Regions from separate parts of the Homo sapiens genome. Here region 1 is linked to region 2. Evidence: fine-mapped QTL for protein levels in blood plasma. A gene starts in region 2. The other region holds a variant in brackets. All regions are shown on one strand. Distances are between the middles of the regions.

The links. A credible set is the group of variants that fine-mapping cannot tell apart. PIP is the posterior inclusion probability: the model's chance that the variant is causal. Protein levels are from antibody-based Olink assays in UK Biobank. Linkage for the fine-mapping came from a reference panel and not from the study's own genotypes, which makes the PIPs less certain.
Region 1: its variant is the best candidate, but not a certain one, in a credible set for the plasma level of the AOC1 protein (UK Biobank, PIP 0.51).

What each region holds. Positions count from the first base shown.
Region 1 is chr7:150,878,095-150,887,703 of GRCh38, forward strand. No RefSeq gene overlaps it. Among named protein-coding and RNA genes, the nearest start is that of AOC1, 30 kb to the left of the region's middle. The variant C/T (reference allele first, on the strand shown) is at 5,061.
Region 2 is chr7:150,843,952-150,853,499 of GRCh38, forward strand. AOC1 (amine oxidase copper containing 1) reads left to right here and starts at 8,566. Exons shown (of 5, transcript NM_001091.4): 1 at 8,566-8,607. All of the region lies in intron 1 of LOC105375567 (a long non-coding RNA gene), which reads right to left. RefSeq lists an enhancer at 8,148-8,719.

The sequences.
Region 1 (9,609 bases), 34 kb after region 2:
TGTTATCCTCTCTTCTGTCCCTTCCACACATGTTTTAGCTTTAGTGGAAGCTCACAGAATAACCCTCAATTATCTGTTGTGGTCTGTGGCATTACCTTCTTAAAGGAAAGCTGATGGGTTCTTTCAACAGGTTTGGGGTCCACTCCCAGCTAACAATTAGTGTGACCTTAGCCGAGCACAGTGTCTCACGCCTGTTATCCCAGCACTTTGGGAGGCCGAGGCGGGTGGATCACGAGGTCGGAGATCAAGACCATCCTGGCTAACATGGTGAAACCCCATCTCCACGAAAAATAGAAAAGAAAATTAGCTGGGCGTGGTGGCGGGCGCCTGTAGTCCCAGCAACTCATGAGGCTGAGGCAGGAGAATGGTGTGAATCAGGGAGGCTGAGCTTGCAGTGAGCCGACATCGCGCCACTGCAGTCCAGCCTGGGTGACAGAGCAAGACTCCATCTCAAAAAAAATTGTGTGACCTTGTTTTCCTTTACCATTGTTTCTAGTTGCCCAGGAATCTAGTGGGAAGATGTGGCTATGGTCTGGGGCAGGATATTTTGGGAAGCCTGGTGTCCAGGGATATTAGGCAAACAAACTTTTGCATTGCACTTAATATTTCAGAAACCCAGCTGAATAGCTCTTATTTTTATGGCACTAAGAAAGTAAATCTTAAATCTTTGCTCTTAACACCATTAAGACAAAATTATTATGAAAATTGGACAAAGTGCCTTATAGCAGCTGATATATTTAAAACATCAATGATTGTACCCTTAGCATTGTTTTATTTTTATTTTTTAAAATTATCTAAACATTGTTTCAAAGCTTGTGAAACTACTAAAAGACAAAGGATTGTAAATGTCAATGAAAGGAAAAGTAAAACAGCAAGTATTTTAGCATACGGGGGCAATCAAGTCATAAAGAAAAAGGGTTAGTAGCTCACTAGACAATAAATTATTATAAAGAAGAGCCAAGAAAAGTATTGCTTTGAAACTTTTTACTTTTAACCTTCAGCCTTACTGAAGAATTTGTTCACTATACTTTAAAAATTTATTATTCTGATCATATTTTCCTTGATTTAAGAGTAGTGTCTTCAACATTAGCTGATATACCTACTAATAGCATCCCACGTCCTACCATCATTTCTTACATCTGACATCTTCTGCTGTTGATCCATAGGTTAACAAAACAAAACAGAAACTACACACAGAAAGAAAAAGAAAGGGAAGAAAGAAAAAAGAAGGAAGAGAAAAAAGCAGAGACCACTTCCAGAATGATTGTATGAGGAGCTCTGCAGACCTGCTCCCCAGCAAAACACTTATATCTAGTTAAATGATTTTTAAGCATTTAAAGTCTCTGGAAATTGTTCCCAATAAGAACAATGAGAATCTATGACACTTGAGCCATGACTCACTTCCTCTCTCCTCCATCCCCCCAACTCACTTAACAGAAGCTCCACTCTTCATGGACTTAGCCAGGAAAACACAGCTCCCTCTCCATCCAGCTCCCAGTCAAGCAATACAATGGCTCCCCAGAAGAGGCAGGCCACCAGAATTCCTCAGCCCCCATTTTGCACAGGCTAAATTGTAGATGAGTGCAGCTGAGAGAATGGAAGCTTCTCTCCTCCACCCAGTCCCCACTCATAGGTGGAGACTACCCCAGGTGATGCAGGCTGAAATTACTGAAGCCCCAATTGCGTTTGGATCAGAGGTTCCATGCTACAACAGCAACCTGAGAAGACAAGAGGCTACTGCCACCACGCAGAGCCCTGCTCTGTAAAGCAGGAGGGCTCTGAGAGAAGCCAGCCACAGCCCCTACCCCCAGGTCTTGAGCAGTGACTCAAAGATTTTGCCCAAAGGAAGAGGTAGATCATAAGAACAGAGAGCACTGAAGCTCTCCCCCGACCCCCCAAGAAACTAACTTGATTTAAAACAGGATGTAGAGAAGTTCAAGCATAAGGGAACTCGCAAAAACAATGGAGATTTTGGTGGTAAACAATAAAGATAATGGGATAAACTATATGCCAGCCAGTTTACCAGAGAAAACAAAACAAATAGCTAAGAAGAGTCCTTCCACTGTCTGAACAAACCCCAAAGACTGGACTCAAAACAATCCTACAAAGGGACCCAAATTTATCTGGATCATACTGTGAAGCATTGCATACTCCAGGCATTGTAGAAAAACAATAGAAAATCAGCCAGTAATTAGTGTACCCTGACAGCTGGGTGTGATGCCAACAGAGACTGATGGCTTAGCAAAGAGATCAGGAAATGAGAAAATTAAAGAGAGGCCGGTTAAAACTTCTGTCACCCCAGATGACTGACTGTACATGTACCTAAGGCTGTGCCCTCTGAGGAGTGAAATCAGAGGCTTCACATTATGGGGAAATACACTTCACAAAATAGTCAAGCAAAGTCACTAAACAAATAAGCCAAAAACAACAAGAAGCCTTGGCCAGGAGTAAGGAGTACGTGGAGGGGAGGGCAGCATCAGTATCCAGAGTTGCTCCAATATATTATCTAAAATATGTTATCTAAAATGATCAGCTTTTAACAACAAAGCATTATGAGACATGCAAAGAAACAGAAAAGTATAACCCACAGAATAAAAAAACCCGGCAACAAAAACTCTGTGAGAGGGCCCAGATGGGGGAATTAACAGAGACATCAAAGCAGCTGTTATAAATATGGTCAAAGTACTAAAGGAAACTATGCTTAAAGAAGTGAATAAGGTTATGACAATGTCCACTCAAATAGAGAATATTAATATAAAAACAGAAAGTATTTTTTAAAAGAACCAAATGGAAATTCTGGAGTTGAGAAATATAATAACTAAAATGAAGAATTTGCTAGAGGAGCTGAGTAGTGGATTTGAACTGGAAGAAGAAAAAATCAGCAAACTTGAATACAGATCAATAAAGATTATGCAATTTGAAAAGCAGAGAGAAAAAAAGCAGAAAGAAAAATGAACAGAGCCTCAGAGAAATGTGTGACATTATTAAGTGTACCAAATATGCAAAATGGGAGTAACTGAAGGAGGAAGAGAGAGAAGAAAACAGAAAAAAAAATCTAAGAAATAATGCCTGAAAACTTCCCAAATATGATGGAAAACATTAATCCACATGTTCAAGAAGCTCAACAAGCTTCAATTAGGAGAAACAAAAACAGATTTAACCCAGACACATCATCTTAAAAATGTTGAAAGCCAAAGACATAAAGAAAATATTGAAATCACCGAGAGAAAAATACTAGTCACATACAAGGGAACCCCAATGAGATTAACAATTGACTTTTCATCAGAAATAATGGAGGCCAGAGGCACTGAGATAACATATTTAAAGTGCTGAAAGAAAAAAAACTGTCAAGCAAGAATCTTATATCCAGCAATATTGTTTTTTTAAAAATGAAAGTAAAATAAAACCATTCTTAGATAAACAAAAACTAAGAGAATTCCTTGCTGGCATGCCACCTCACAAAAAATAGCAAAATAAATTCTTTAGGCTGAAAGCAAATGGCCTAGACAGTAACTTAAACCCACAAACAAAATTTAAAGAGCACCAATGTAGATAATTTTGTAATTATAAAAACAATAGTGTAAATGCATATTTCTTCTTCTTTCTTTACTTAACTAATTTTAAAAGCAATTGTGGGCTCTGTGTGTGTGTGTGTGTGTGTGTGTGTGTGTATGTGTTTAAAATTGTATTGTTGGGTCTACACATATAGAAATGTATTTATTTTACAATAATAGCACAAAACCAGTAGGTGGGAGCAAAGCTGCACTGGAATAAGGAAATATCAGCTGATGGTAACTTGAATCCACAGGTACAATAAAAAGAGCCAAAAATGATAAATAAGAAGGTTAATATAACAAAATCTATAAATACATACTTGCTTTCCTTTCTTCTCTCAGCTTCTTTAAAAGGTACAGAATTCCATAAAGTAATAGTTATAACTATGTTATTTTGGGTTTGCAACATATATAGATATAATATGTATAACAATAATGACACAAAAGGAGAACAGAATATAGAGCTATACAAAAGCAGCATTTCTATAACTCGTTGGAATTAAGTTAGTATAATCTGAAGCAGATTCTGATAAGTTAAAATGTGTATGGTAAGGCCTAGAGCAACCACTAAGAAAATAACTAAAAAAAAAAATACAGATAAATGAGATTAACCAAGAAAAGAAGAGAGACTATCCAAATAAGCTCAATTAGAAATGAAACTGGAGATATTACAACCAATACCACAGAAATACAAAAATCATTCAAGGCTACTATGAATAGCTTTACACACACAAACTAGAGAATCTAGAGGAAATAGATAAATTCCTGGGAACATACAACTCTCCTAGAATAAATCAGGAAGAAATATAAACCCTGATCGGACCAATAACAAGTAGTGAGATTTCAACAGTAATAAAAAAAATTTCCAACAACAACAAAAGTTCAGGACTAGATGGATTCACAGCTGAATTCTATCAGACATTCAAAGAAGAATCAGTACCAATCCTACAGAAACTTTTCAAAAGATACAGAAAGAGGGAATCCTCCCTAAATCATTCTATGAAGCCAGTATCACCCGAATACCAAAACCAGGAAAGGACATAACAAAAAAAGAAAACTACAGACCAATATCCCTGATGAACATAGAGGCAAAAATCCTCAACAAAAATACTAGCTAACCAAATCCAACAGCATATCAAAAAGATAATCCACCATGATCAAATGGGTTTCATCCCAAGGATGCAGGGAATGTTTAGCATACTCAAGTCAATAAATGTGATCTCTCACATAAACAGAATTAAAAACAAAAATCATCTGATCATCTCAATAGATGCAGAAAATAATTTTATAAAATCCGGCATTGCTTTATGATAAAAACCATTAACAAAATAGGCATAAAAGGGACTTACCTCAAAGTAATAAAAGCCGTATATGACAAACCCACAGTCAACACCATACTGAATGGGGAAAAGTTGAAAGCATTCCCCCGATAAATGGAATAAGACAAGTATGCCCACTTTCACCACTTCTATTTAACATAGTACTAAAAGTCCTCGCCAGAGCAAT[C/T]AGACAAGAGAAAAAATAAAGGGGATCCAAATTGGAAAATAGGAAGTCAAATTGTCGCTGTTCACCAATGATATGATCATGTACCTAGAAAACCCTAAAGACTCATCCAAAAACCTCCTAGATCTGATAAACAAATTCAGTGAAGTCTCAAATTACAAAATCAATGTACACAAATCAGTAGCACTGCTATACAGCAGCAACAACCAAGCTGAAAATCAAATCAAGAACTCAATCCCTTTTATAACAGCTGTAAAAATAAAATACTTAGGAATGTACTTACCCAAGAAAGTGAAAGATTTCTACAAAGAAAACTACAAAACACTGCTTAAAGAAATCATAGATGACACAAAAAAATGGAAACACATCCCACACTCATGGATGGAAAGAATCAATATTGTGAAAATGACCGTATTGCCCAAAGCAATCTACAGGTTCAGTGCAATTCCTATCAAAATTCCATCATCATTCTTCATGGAACTAGAAAAAACAAATCTAAAATTTATATGGAACCAAAAAAGAGCCCACATTGCCAAAGCAATACTAAGCAACAACAACAACAAAAAATCAGGAGGCATTACATTACCCAACATCAAATTATCCTGCAAGGCTATAGTTACCAAAATAGCATGATACTGGTATAAAAATAGGCAGGTATACCCACGTATACCAATGGAGCAGAATAGAGAACCCAGAAATAAAGCCAAATACTTATAGCCAACTGATCTTTGGCAAAGCATACAAAAACATAAACTGGGAAAAAAGAAACACCCTATTCAATAAATGGTGCTAGGAAAACTGGCAAGCTACATGTAGAAGAATAAAACTGGATCCCCATCTCTCACCTTATTCAAAAATCAACTCAAGATGGATCGAAGACTTAAATCTAAGACCTGAAACAATAAAAATTCTAGAAGATAGCATTGGGAAAACTCTTCTAGACATTGGCTTAAGCAAAGAATTCATGACTAAGACCCCAAAAGCAAATGCAACAAAAACAAAAATAAATAAATGGGACTTAATTAAACTAAAAAGCTTCTGTACAGCAAAAAATAATAATAATAATAGTCAGCAGCAGAGTAAACAGACAACCCAGAGAGTGGGAGAAAATATTTGCAAACGGTGCATCTGACAAAGGACTACTATTCAGAATCTACGAGAACTCAAACAAATCAGTAAGAAAAATTAAATAATCCCATCAAAAAGTGGGCAAAGGACATGAATAGACATGTCTCAAAATAAGATATACAAACAGCCAACAATCATGAAAATATGCTCAATGTCACTAATCATCAGGGAAATGCAAATTAAAGCCACAGTGAGGTACCACCTTACTCCTACAAGAATGGCCATAATTAAAAAGTCAAAACACAATAGATGTTCACATGGATGTGGTGATAAAGGAACACTTTTACACTGCTGGTGAGAATATAAATTAGTACAATCACTATGGAAAACAGTAAGAAGATTCCTTAAAGAACTAAAAGTAGAACTGCCATTTGATTCAGCAATCCCACTACTGGGTATCTACCCAAAGGAAACAAAAAAGTCACTATATGAAAAAAACATATGCACATGCATGATTATAGCAACACAACTTGCAATTGCAGAGAAATGGAACCATCCTAAGTGCGCATCGACCAACAAGTGGATAAAGAAAATGTGGTATATCTACACCAAGGAACACTACTCAGCCATAAAAATGAATGAAATAATGTCTTTTGCAGCAACCTGGAAGGAGCTGGAGGCCATTACTCTAAGTGAAATAACTCAGGAATGGAAAACCAAATGCCATTTGTTCTCACTTATAAGTGGTAGCTAAGCTATGAGGATTCAAAGGAATAAGAATGATATGATGGACTTTGGGGACTTGGGAGAGAAGGTTGAGAGGAGGATGAGGGATAAAAGACTACCTGTTGGGTAGTGTACACTGCTCGGGTGATGGGTGTGCTAAAATCTCAGAAATCACTGCTAAACGTATTCATGTAACCAAAAACCACCTGTACCCCCAAAAACTATTGAAATTAAAAAATAAGAAAAAGAAAAATATACAGACAAAAAAATTAATGGAATTAAAGTGTTACATTAGAAAATATTCACTTAATCCAAAAGAAAGCAATAAAGGAGGAATACAGGAAACAAAAGACATACAGAAAACAAATAGCAAAATGGCAGATATAAATCCAACTATATCAATAACAATGTTCAATGTTAAGGCATTAAACAATTTAATCAAAAGGCAGAGATTATCAAACTGGACACAAAAGCAAGATCTAACTATATTTTGTCTATATGAGATGAATCTTAGATTCAAAATTATAAATAGGCCAAAAGGCAAAGGATGGGAAAAGATATATCATACAAAAGTTACCATAAGAAAGCTGGAGTAGCTATACTAGTATTAGACAAAATAGACATTAAAACAAAAATGTTACTCAAGATAAAGAACATTTTACAATAACAAAAGGAGTTAATCCATCAGGGAAATATAATAATCATAAACATAAATGCACCTAATAACAGAGCTCTAAAATACATAAAACTAAACTAAAATAATTGAAAAGAGAAATAGACAATGTAAAAATAATAGTTAGGGACTTCAATTCCCTATTTTCAGTAAAGAACAGAACAACTAGGAAGGAGATCAACAAGACTACAGAAGACTGTTTATAAGCTAACTAGACCTAACAAATGTCCACAGAATACCCCACCCAATGAAAGCAAATTTTTCTCAAGTGCACATGGAACATTCTCTGGATAAACCATTTTCGGTTTTGTTGGTTTTTGTTGGTTGGTTTTTTTGAGATGGAGTCTCACTCTGTCGCCAGGCTGGAGTGCAGTAGTGTGATCTTGGCTCACTGCAATCTCTGCTTCCTGAGTTCAAGTGATTCCCCTGCCTCAGCCTCCCAAGTAGCTGGGACTACAGGCACGCACCACCACACCCAGCTAATTTTTTGTATTTTAATAGAGACAGGGTTTTACCATGTTGGCCAGGATGGTCTCAATCTCCTGACCTCATGATCCGCCCACCTTGGCCTCCTAAAGTGCCAGGATTACAGGTATGAGCCACCGCACCTGGTTGGATCAACCATTTTCTAGGCCACAAAAGAAGCCTCAATAAATTTCTGAGGGTTAAAATCATATAACATATGTTTTCTGACCACATGAAATAAAAGAAATCAATACAAAAAGAAATTTGAGAAATTCACAATAAGTTGAAATTAAACAACATATTCCCTAAATAACAATGGGTCAAAGAAGAAATCCCAAGAGAAATTAGAAAATCTTTGACATGAATGAAAATGAAGACACAATATATAAGACACAGTATAGGATGCAACTAAAGCAGTGCTTAGAAGAAAATTTATATCTATAAATAACTATGTTAAAAAAGAAGAAATTTTCTATCACTAAACTAACCTTCCACCTTAAAACACTAGAAGAGCAAACTCAGCGTAAAGCAAGCAGAAGAAAAGAAATAATAAAGATTAAAACAGAGATAAAGAGAACAGAAAAAAATAGAGAGCATCAATAATACCAAAAGTTAGTTCTTTGAAAAAAAATCAACAAAATGGACAAATCTTTAGCTAGATTGATGAAAGCTAGAGAGAAAGGCTCAAACTGTCAAAATCAGAAATGAAAAAGGGGACATTACTACATTACTACTGTTATGTGATGAAATGTGTCTCCCCCGATAAAAACAAAACTTATATATTGAAGTCCTAACCCCCAGTTCTTCAGAATGTGACTGTATTTGGACGCAGGACCTTGAAAGAGGTAATTAAGGTAAGTGAGGTAATTTGGGAGGACCTAATCCAAAATAATTGGTGTCCTTATTAAAAAAAAAAAGATTAAGACATAGACAATGCACAGCGTGAAGTTCACAGAGAGGAGATGGTCATCTACAAGCCAAGGAGAGAGGCCTGAGAAGAAATTAATTTCCAAGGACTTAATCTTAGACTTCTAGACTCCAGAATCATGAGAAAATACATTTCTTTCTTTTTTTTTTAGTTGAGACAGAGTCTTGCTCTGTCACCCAGGTTGGAGTGCTGTGGCGTGATCTCAGCTCACTCCAACCTCCGCCTCCCAGGTGTCTCATGCGTCAGTGTGAAGAGACCACCAAACAGGCTTTGTGTGAGTAACAAGGCTGTTTATTTCACCTGGGTGCAGGCGGGCTGAGTCTGAAAAGACAGTCAGCAAAGGGTGGTGGGATTATCATTGGTTCTTATAGGTTTTGGGATAGGAGGTGGAGTTAAGAGCAATGTTTTAGGGGCAGGGATGGATCTCACAAAGTACATTCTCAAGGGTGGGGACAATTACAAAGAAACTTCTTAAGGGTGGGGGAGATTATAAAGAACCTTCTTAAGGGTGGGGGAGATTACAAAGTACATTGATCAATTACGGTGGGGCAGAAACAAATCACAATGGTGGAATGTCATCAGTTAAGGCTATTTTCACTTTTGTGGATCTTCATTTGCTTCAGGCCATCTGGATGTATACGTGCAGGTCACTGGGGATATGATGGCTTAGCTTGGGCTCAGAGGCCTGACAC
Region 2 (9,548 bases):
AGGGATAGTAACAGAGAACTTCCCAAAACTAGAGAAAAGTATCAAGATCTGAGTACAAGAAGGTTATAGAACACCAAGCAGATTGAACCCAAAGAAGACCACTTCAAGGCACTTAATAATCACACTCCCAAAGGGCAAGGATTTTTTTTAAAAATGATCCTAAAAGCAGCAAGAGAAAAAAAAAAAAAAAACAAGTAACATACAATGGAGGTCCAATACATTTGGCAGCAGACTTTTTAGTGGAAATCTTACAAGCCAGGAGATAGTGGCATGACATATTTAAGGTGCTGAAGGAAAAAACTTTTACTCTAGAATTATATATCTGGTGAAAATATCCTTCAAACATGAAGGAGAAATACTTTCCCAGACAAACAAAAGCTGAGGAATTTCATCAACACCAGACCTGTCCTACAAAAAAATGCTAAAGGGAGTACTTCAATCAGAAAGAAAAGGATGTTAATGAGCAATAAGAAATTATCTAAAGATACAAAACTCACGGGTATTAGTAAGTACACAGAAAAACACAGAATACAACACTGTAACTGTGGTGTGTAAACTACTTTTAAGTAGAAAGACCAAAATATGAACCAATCAAAAATCATAACAACTTTTCAAAACATAGACAGTACGGTAAGATATAAATGGAAACATCAAGAGTTAAAAAGTGGGGGAAGGCCTCACATGGTGGCTTCTGCCTATAATCCCACAGGGCACCCCTGTAATCCAAGCACTTTGGGAGGCCAGAGGTAGGCAGATTGCTTGAGCTCAGGAATTCAAGACCAGCCTGGATGACATGGCGAAACCCCATCTCTACAAAATATACAAAAATTAACTGGCATGGTGGCTCACATCTGTGGTCCCGGCTACTTTGGGGGCTGAAGTGGGAGGATCGCTTGAGCCCCAGAGGCGGAGGTGGCAGTGAGCTGAGATCACGCCATGCACCTCACTTCAGCCTAGATACAGAGTGAGATGCTGTCTCAAACAAAAAAAAAAAAGAACAAAAAGTAGGGGAACAAAGATAAAGAGAAAGTCTTTATTAGTGTTCTTTTTGCTTTTTAGTTTGCTTGTTTATGCAAGTAGTGTTAAGTTGTTATCAACTTAATAGATTGTAAGAGTATTTGCAAGCCCTGTGGTAATCTCAAATCAAAAAACATACAACAGATGCACAAAAATTAAAAAGCAAGAAATCAAATCATACCACCAGAGAAAATCACCGTCTCTAAAAGGAAAAGTTAACCGCTTTTCCCACATAACATCCAACTAAAAGAAGTAGAACCTGGATTCAAACTCAGGCCTTCTGGCTCTATATCCTGTACCAGTAACCATGCTGCTATATTTCCTTCCAAAATTGTGCTCAGCAAAGGGCTGCACAGAGGCAGTGACTGTTCTGGTGATTTCTGAAGTCCTACATGCTACCTCCAATATGCACCTGGAATGTCATAGTCACCAAAATGGTTTAACACAAATACATCCCTGCACCACACAAGGTCACATGTCTACCAACACAAATTCTTTATTTCAAAGATCAGCAACATATTTTAACTTCTGCTTCCTGATTTTCTGGCCTCTTGATTTTTTTCTTCTTTAAGAATCCAATGCACATTTCGTGAGGTAGCTACTAAAGAGAGCCAGGAGGAAGGAAGAATTCTGCTGTGTCTACTGCCCAGCCCCGGCTGCCAGACACAGCTGCAGCTGGAGGGAGGAATGTGGGATTTGACGGGGAAGCTGTCAGCTGGCCAGCACTGCCAGGCATGGTCAGTGAAGATACAAAGAGCGCCTGGAGGACCCAGCCCTGGTCTCTGACTCCTCACAAAGGTCTCCTTGGGGCTCCCTCCACCCTTGCCCCTCATGTGCCTTGGGATCCAGCATCAAAGTCCAGAAGTGGGCTCAGCCAGCAGCCAGCCATGCTCACACACTGAAGCATCCTGACTCAGCTCCTGGCTGCCCCAGCAGAGCAGAACCTCTGCCCGAACTTGGGGTCACCTGGCTCTTCTCTCTGGAGTCTCATATCCCAGCCCTCAGCAAATCTCCCCCAGCCTCCCTTCCAGCTACATCCAGAATGTGGCCACTTCTCATCACTTCCACCCCTGCAACCCTGACCTGGCAACCAGCCTTGCCCCCCAAGACTATTGCAACCACCCCCCGGCCTGCTCTCTGCTCCTGCCATCATTGCAGCCTTCACTCTTTTGCATTCTGTCTCCCCCAGCACCTCCAGATAGCACTTGCTAGAGGCAGGTCAGTTTTGGCCTCTGCACGAACCTGACAGAGGCTTCCCAAGTGGCTCAGAGTAAAATCCCAGTGACAGCCTTGGAGGCGAGGGCGTTTGGTCACTCTCTGAATCCACCTGCCACCACTTGCCCCTGGCGACAGCAGTCCCCTCACTCTGCATCAGGGACTTTGCATTCCTTGCTCCTTCAGCCTGAAATGCCCCCGCCACCAGGCATCCTTGTGGCCCACTCCTTCACCACATTGAGGAGAAGAGGAGTCCCCTTTCTGAAAGGTCAGGCCCTGCCCCCACCACATGCCCCTGCTCTGTTTTCCCCTGAGCATGTGCCCCACTGGAACACACTGGGTCACCACTTGCCGCCAACGCCTGCAGGACACCTCTCTGAACACCCGTGACACCTCATGGCACCTCTGCTGTCAGAGCTTCACTAGGACTCACCAGACTAAGCAGACAGTTATACCCACGGCCAACACACAGCAAGGACACAGCGGGGTCTGGAGGGGTCAGGGCACAGACTCGCTGAGCTCTCCCTCCCATGAAGGCTGCACAGAGCATACCCTGCGCCCTGCATCTCCCCAGGGAAGTAGAAGCTCAGAGCTGGGGCAGAGGTTGGGGCTGGTCACGTAGGCACACTCTCTGCCCACCACAACTAACAAGATTCCAGATTCCCAATAGGAAAGCAGGTGTTCACTAATCACATTGTCTGTAAAAACAGTCAGCAGGCCGGCACAGCGGGGCAGGATCCTGAAAGTTAAGTTCCCAGATGCCAGCCCAGGGCCAGCCCCTGTCATCAGCTGTCCCAGTGAGGAGGTCTGCTGTGAAGGCTCACAAGCTTCGCTGTTGGATAGTCTTCACTAAAATATGAGCCCCATAGAGGCTTTGGTTTTGTTTGTTCGTTGCTGTGTCTCCCTGGTGCAGAATGAGTGCTCCATAAACATTTGTTGAATGAATTAAGGACTGTCAAGTATAAGCCCACCAGCCAGTGGCAGAAGCAGGGCTAGCACCTGGAGATGAACGTTCTCCCCTCTCTGGGTGGGGCTGCCCAAGCCATCAGGACCTCACCAGGGCCCCTTATGACCAATGGCCCTGCCTCAGAAAATGGTGGAATTTTCTTTTTTACAAACCCACCTTCCCTAATCAGGGACAAAAGCTATGATGTTGGCTTCATTCACATAAAGATCTAATCGAATGAGCTTCCCTGGTGTACCCCCAGTAGGTCCTGGTGCAGGCGCGGGTTGCTCTGTTTCTTCTCTGTGGTTTCGTGGAAACAATCCCACTCTCTAGATCCTCTCAAATTAGCTCTGACAGGTTGTGACTTTCTGAAAGCAAAATATCAAGATTTAGCCACAGGACATGGTGAGCTGTGACCTCTGGCTTCCTAGCTCCACCTTTGTATATAGCGCTGCCCCTCCTTAGGCCTGGACCTCCTTAAGAAAGGCAAGCAGCGAACAACTGACAGGATACGGTCTTTGCCCAAGTGCTATCTCTAACTGTCAGCAATCATTAATTCCACAAGCGAGGAACCACACCTCAGAAACCAAGGTCACCTTCAGTATGGAGGGGCCAGCCCCAGCCAGGGAGCAGGAAGAGAGGTGGCAAGGCAACAGACCCCAAATTTCAAGTGTGACATCTCAAGTTCCCCAGCCACAGTGCACACAAACATGAGCAGAAACAATGGCCTTGGCCAGACATGGTCACTCATGCCTGTAATCCCGGCACTCTGGGAGGCCAAGGCAGGAGGATCACTTGAGGCCAGGAGTTCAAGACCAGCGTGGGCAACACAGCATGACCCCGTCTCTACAAATATATATATGTATATAACAACAGACTTACCAGCTTTTCTGCACAAGGATTCTGTTCGCCTCAGCTTTCCCAGTGCCTCTCTAGAGGGCTTCTCTATCTCCTCTGTCTCTATAGGATTCCCACAAGCCCCTCTTCACCCCCACACTTCTCTAGAAGCGCATAGGGAGGTTCCTCACTCTACCTCCTCCTTCCAGACACACCACCTGCCCTTCCTCAGCACAGCGACACAAACCGCACCCCACTCCCCGCATCAGCCCTGACCTTTTCCCATGTTGGGAAACACACCACATCTCAGTTCAGGACTCTGCTCCTACCCCCACTCACACTCCCACTCCCACCCCCGCCCCTGCCCAGTGTGTCCTCTTCCTCCTAAGTCCCTCGTGTATCGCAAAACCCCACACAGGCTCTACCTTGTGGATCCTCGGGGCAGCAGCCCCCCAGGGCACAGGGCTTGGAATTCACTCACTGGCCAAGGACCATGCTCTCTGCAATGAGGCAGGTAAAGAAGGTGTGCTGGGTTGCATAGCATCCCCCTAAAAATTCATGTCCTCCCTGGAACCTCAGAATATGGTCTTATTTGGAAATAGGGTCGTTGCAGATGAATTAGTTAGGATGATGTCATACTGGAGTAGGGTAGGCCCTCAATACAATCACTGGTGTTCTTGAAAATAGAGGTACTGAGACAAGGAGGACGCCATGTGAGGACAGAGATTGGAGTGACATGGCCACAAGCCAAGGCACTGAGGGACACCAAGGATTGCTGGCAACACAGAAGCTGGAAGAGGAGAGGAAGGACCCTCTTCTTGAGCCTCCAAAGGGAGCATGGCCCTGCCTACACCTTGATTTCACACTTTAGGCCTCCAGAACTGTGAGACAACCCATTTCTGTTACTTTAAGCCCCTGTGTGTGGTCCTCTGTGACAGCAGCCATGGAGGCTACTGCAGAGGGGATAGAGTCCCAGGACTTGGGGGCTTGCAGTCTTGAGGGGAATCTCCTTCCAAGCCCTTGCAGGACAGGCCCTTGGGCATCAATGTGTTGCACTTACTCTGTGCCACCTTGTAATATTAATCCTTCTATGTACATGTTATGGGCCCCGTTACATAAAAAATGCAATTCTTTCTGGTGTGCTTCAGCTCCCTGCCTACACGCAGTGTTCCTCCCTGCCCTCACTGCATCCTCCAGGTGCGGGACCTGTGGTGGTTCCTGTCCTCAGCCACATCTACCCTGGTGTGAGGACCTGTAGTCACTCAGTCTGTCTCCCAGGCCTTTCTTTTATTTATTTATGGACGTCCATTGCAGAACTGAATTAATTCTACCTCAGTGCATGGATGTCGTCATCACTGGCCCATACAAGTCCTCTCTCTTGTCTTTCTCACGTGTGTATGTATGTATTCCCACTCCCACCCCCGCCCTCACATCCATTCTAATGTGTATCCACTCTTGAAAGCGGGTGGCTTGGTGTGTACGTGTTTCCTGTTGTGTAATGGCATCGTGCTATCACTCATCCTGCGTCTTCCATGATCCTGAGATCCCTTCTCAGGAGTGGCTGTGTGGACATCCATGCCTTTGCACCCGCCAACTGCACAACACCCCATGGTGTGCAGTGACCACTCTCCTGGGGGTGGCACCCCGATGGCCTCCAGCTCCCCAGCCTCACAGCCACTTGTGTCTGCATCCCACCTCTAGGCCTGGGTGAGAACCTCTTTGACATATATTCCAAGAGACAGAGTTCCTGAGTCTGGAGAGCATGCAATTCTCTCATTTGCCCACACCCTGCAAAGTGCCCTCCAGAATGGCTGTGCCATCAATAACCCCTTCCCACAACCACACATAAGGTCCCCGTTTCCCCACATCTCTGTCAACACTTGGCATCATCCAGCTTTCCCATGAAAAATTATATCTCGTTGTTGAATGCTTTGCATTTTTCTAGTAACCACTACATTTGAGCATCTTTCCATGTGCTCTTTAGCCCTTTGGGGTGCCTCTTCTGCAAGTTACCCTTGGGATTCTTTACCAGGTTTCCATGGGGACTGCTGCCTCTTTCTGACCGATTTGCAAGAGCTCCTTGTGTATTCTAGATATTAGTCCTGTCACTTTTTGAAAACAGCTTTATTGAGACACACCTTACAATTCACCCATTTAAAGTGTATAATTCAATGCATTTTAGTACATTCACAGGTACATGCAGCCATCACCTTCAATTTTAGAACTTTTTAATCACCTCAAAAAGAAACCCCATAAGCATTAGCTCTCACCCCATCCCTCCATCGCACCCCAGCCCTAAGCAACCACTAATGTGCTTCTCATCTGCTTGAGAGATTTACCTACCCCACACGTTTCATATAAATGGAATAATGTGGTCTTTTGTGACTGGCTTCTTTCATTTGCCGTAGTGGTTTTAAGGTTCATCCACATTGTGTCATGTAACAGTGATTCCTTCCTTTTTATGACTGAATGATGTTCCATTGAGTGGATAGACCACATTTTGTTGACTCATTTATCAATGCAGAGACATATGAGTCGTCTCCACTGTTTGGCTATTGTGAATAACACTGCAGTAAACACTCTGGTACAGGTTTCCCCATGGACATAGGCTTTCCTTTCTCTTGAGCATATACCCAGGAGTGGGATTGCTGGGTTATATGATAACAACGTTAAGTCATTTGAGGAACAGCCAGACAGTTTTCCGAAGTGGCTGCGTCATCTCACCATGAACTGCCTGTGAGGCTTCCAGTTTCTCTGCCTCCTGGCCCCACCTGTTATTACCTTGCTTTTGAATTCTAGCCATCCTAGTGGATATAAAGTGGTATCTCCTGGTGGTTTTGATTTGCATCCCCTGATGACTAATGACATTGAACAGCTTTCCATGTGCATATTGGCCATTTGTGTATCTTCGTGAGGGGAATATCTATTCAGATCTTTGGCTCATTTTTAATTGGATTATTTGCCTCTTATTATGGAATTGGAAGAGTTCTTCTTACATTCTAGATATAATTTTCTTATCAGATATATAATCTGTGAATATTTTCTCCCATTCTATGCTTTGTCTTTTCATTTTCCTGTGGGTGTCCTTTGAAGCATAAAAGTCTTTTAATACTGATGATGTCAATTTATCTATTTTTTTTTCTTTGGTTATTTGTGCTTTGAGGTCACATCCAAGAATTAGATGTAAAGTCAAGCAGATTTACTCCTATGTTTTCTTTTTAAGAGTTTTACAGTTTTAGCTCTTACATGTATGTCTTTGGTCCCTTTCGAGTCCGTTTCCGTGTGTGAAAGGGTCTAACTCCATCATGTGCATGTGGCCCCTTTCCCTTTAAATCTTTGCAAGTCTCTTTTCTCGATCCATCCTCACTCCATTAACTTTGTCGCAGTTTCCTTTGTGGAATGGAAACAGATTGTAGTCCTCAAAATCAGGTTGTTCCTGAAACTCTCTTCTAATCCAAATCCCCCCAATTCTCTGCGGAGTTGGTGAGCCCATAACTGAGAATACATAACTCACAGTCCTCTTGAACACTGAGGGTGAAAGACGTTAGCATTCATTGTCTTTGTATCAATCATCATTTTAACATGGAAGGCAAATCCCCTTCCTCAGAAACACCAAAGACCTTCTGGAATTGCAAGCAAGCTTCAAGTTGACTAAGTGTGTTCACCTTCCTTCATCTAGCTGCCAGTGCACACTGAAATGGCTTGCATTGCGGGCAGCAGGAAGGATGATGATGAGAAATACAAAACCCCTATAACCACAAAGCGGTGTGCAATCCCTGAGCAACCAAACCTTGGTAATGGGGGATGATGACCCCTTGGCACTCCTGAGCCACGAACTTTTCCTGACTCTATTCTTTCCTTTCCAACTAGGAGTTACCCCGGTCACCACGTTCGCCCTTCTCAACCTGACTAAGTGGGCGTTAGCACTGTCCGCCCACTGCATGGGCACTACCTGCCCCAGTGTCCTCTCCCCTCTCCGCTCTGTGCCATAGCCTTAGCTACCCTGGCCAGCTTTCTCCCAGCCAAGTCCTTCCTCCTTTCTGAATCTGGTCAGGGTCTCAAAGATCGTTAAAAAGCCGCCAAAGTTTGCAACTCGTCTTGAGTGGCTGCTCCTCCCAAACGGTTCTGCCTCTGGTGTCTTGTTCTAGGAGCGGTTGAATTCTCTGTTTTGCTGTGGGTGCCAGCCTCTATCAGCCCCTGCCCTGGTCCATCTGTCAGCTTCAGGTAAGACTACCGGCTAGGAAATGGCCCCTTGTCCTTATCTCTGCCTCTAAAATATGCCACCTAAATTAACAGATCGTGGCATTGCATGGCTCGTCACAGAGAAGCCAAGGCAAATTCTTGTGGAAGGCGGCACTTGTCTGGAAACAGACTCAGGACAAGTGTGCTGCACAGCCAGCTTCCTCAAACCCACTCTCGCCACTGTAGCTGCCCACAGAGGCACCTCCCAAGCCATAGGCCCCTCCTAGGCCAGCTCAGGCCTCACCTTGTCCCTCCCTGCAGGGCGGGGTCTGATTGACTTCAAGAAGGAGTCAGAGATCAGCTTAAGGGCAAAGGCTGGAAGCAGAGCGAACTGGGAGCAGAGCACACAGGTGCGTTCTGATGGGTATTCGGGAGAGTCAAGAAGGGGCTGACCTGGAGGACAGAAAAGCAGTGGAAGGAGGGCACAGAGTGAGGGGCAGAAGAAACAGGACACAGAGGGAGGAGGGCCAGGAAGTGAGGGCGGGAGCCCAGCACATCACAGAAGGTGCCCGGGTGCTTGGTGGCAGGCAACAGCCGGCCAGGGTGGAGTGGGGAAAGCTCAGAGAGGAGGGTGAGCAGGGAGAGGGCTTGCTTCCTGTTCCTGCCTGGAGGTCTCACCAGCCACCACCCCCACTGCCACTGCACATGGGGACAGAGGTTTGTCCTGGGGAAAGCAAAGGTCTCTTCCACATCTTTCTCCTTCCTGGAAAAGCAAAAAGAAACGTGGGTATAAGAGGTTGTAAAAAAGGAGACCCAGCCGTGAAAGGACATGGAGGTACCCTAAATGCACACTGCCAAGCAAAAGAAGCCAATCTGAAAAGGCTGCAGACTGTAAGATTCCAAATACAGGACGTTCTGGAAAAGGCAAAACTATGGAGACAATAAAAAGAGCAGTGATTGCTAGGGTTTCGGAGGAAGAGGTGGAGCACAGAAGATTTTGGGGGAGGTGGAACTATTCTGTGTGATATTCTAATGGTGGATCCATGTCATTGTCCGTTTGTCCAACCCATAGAATATGCAGCAGCAAGAGTGAGTCCTGATGTAAACTGTGGGCTCTGGGTGAGAGTGATGTGCAGGTTCATCAGCCACAAATGTATGGCTCTGGTGTGGATATTGATAGTGGGGAGGCTGCGTGTGTAGGGGCTGTGAGTATACAGAAACTCTCAGTACCTTTCGCTCAATTTTGCTATGAACCTAAAATTCCTCTTTAAAAGACTCCTATTTAAAAGACTTTAATAGACTTTATAAAGTTTGTTAAAAGACTTTTAATAGACTTTTTAAAGACTTTTAA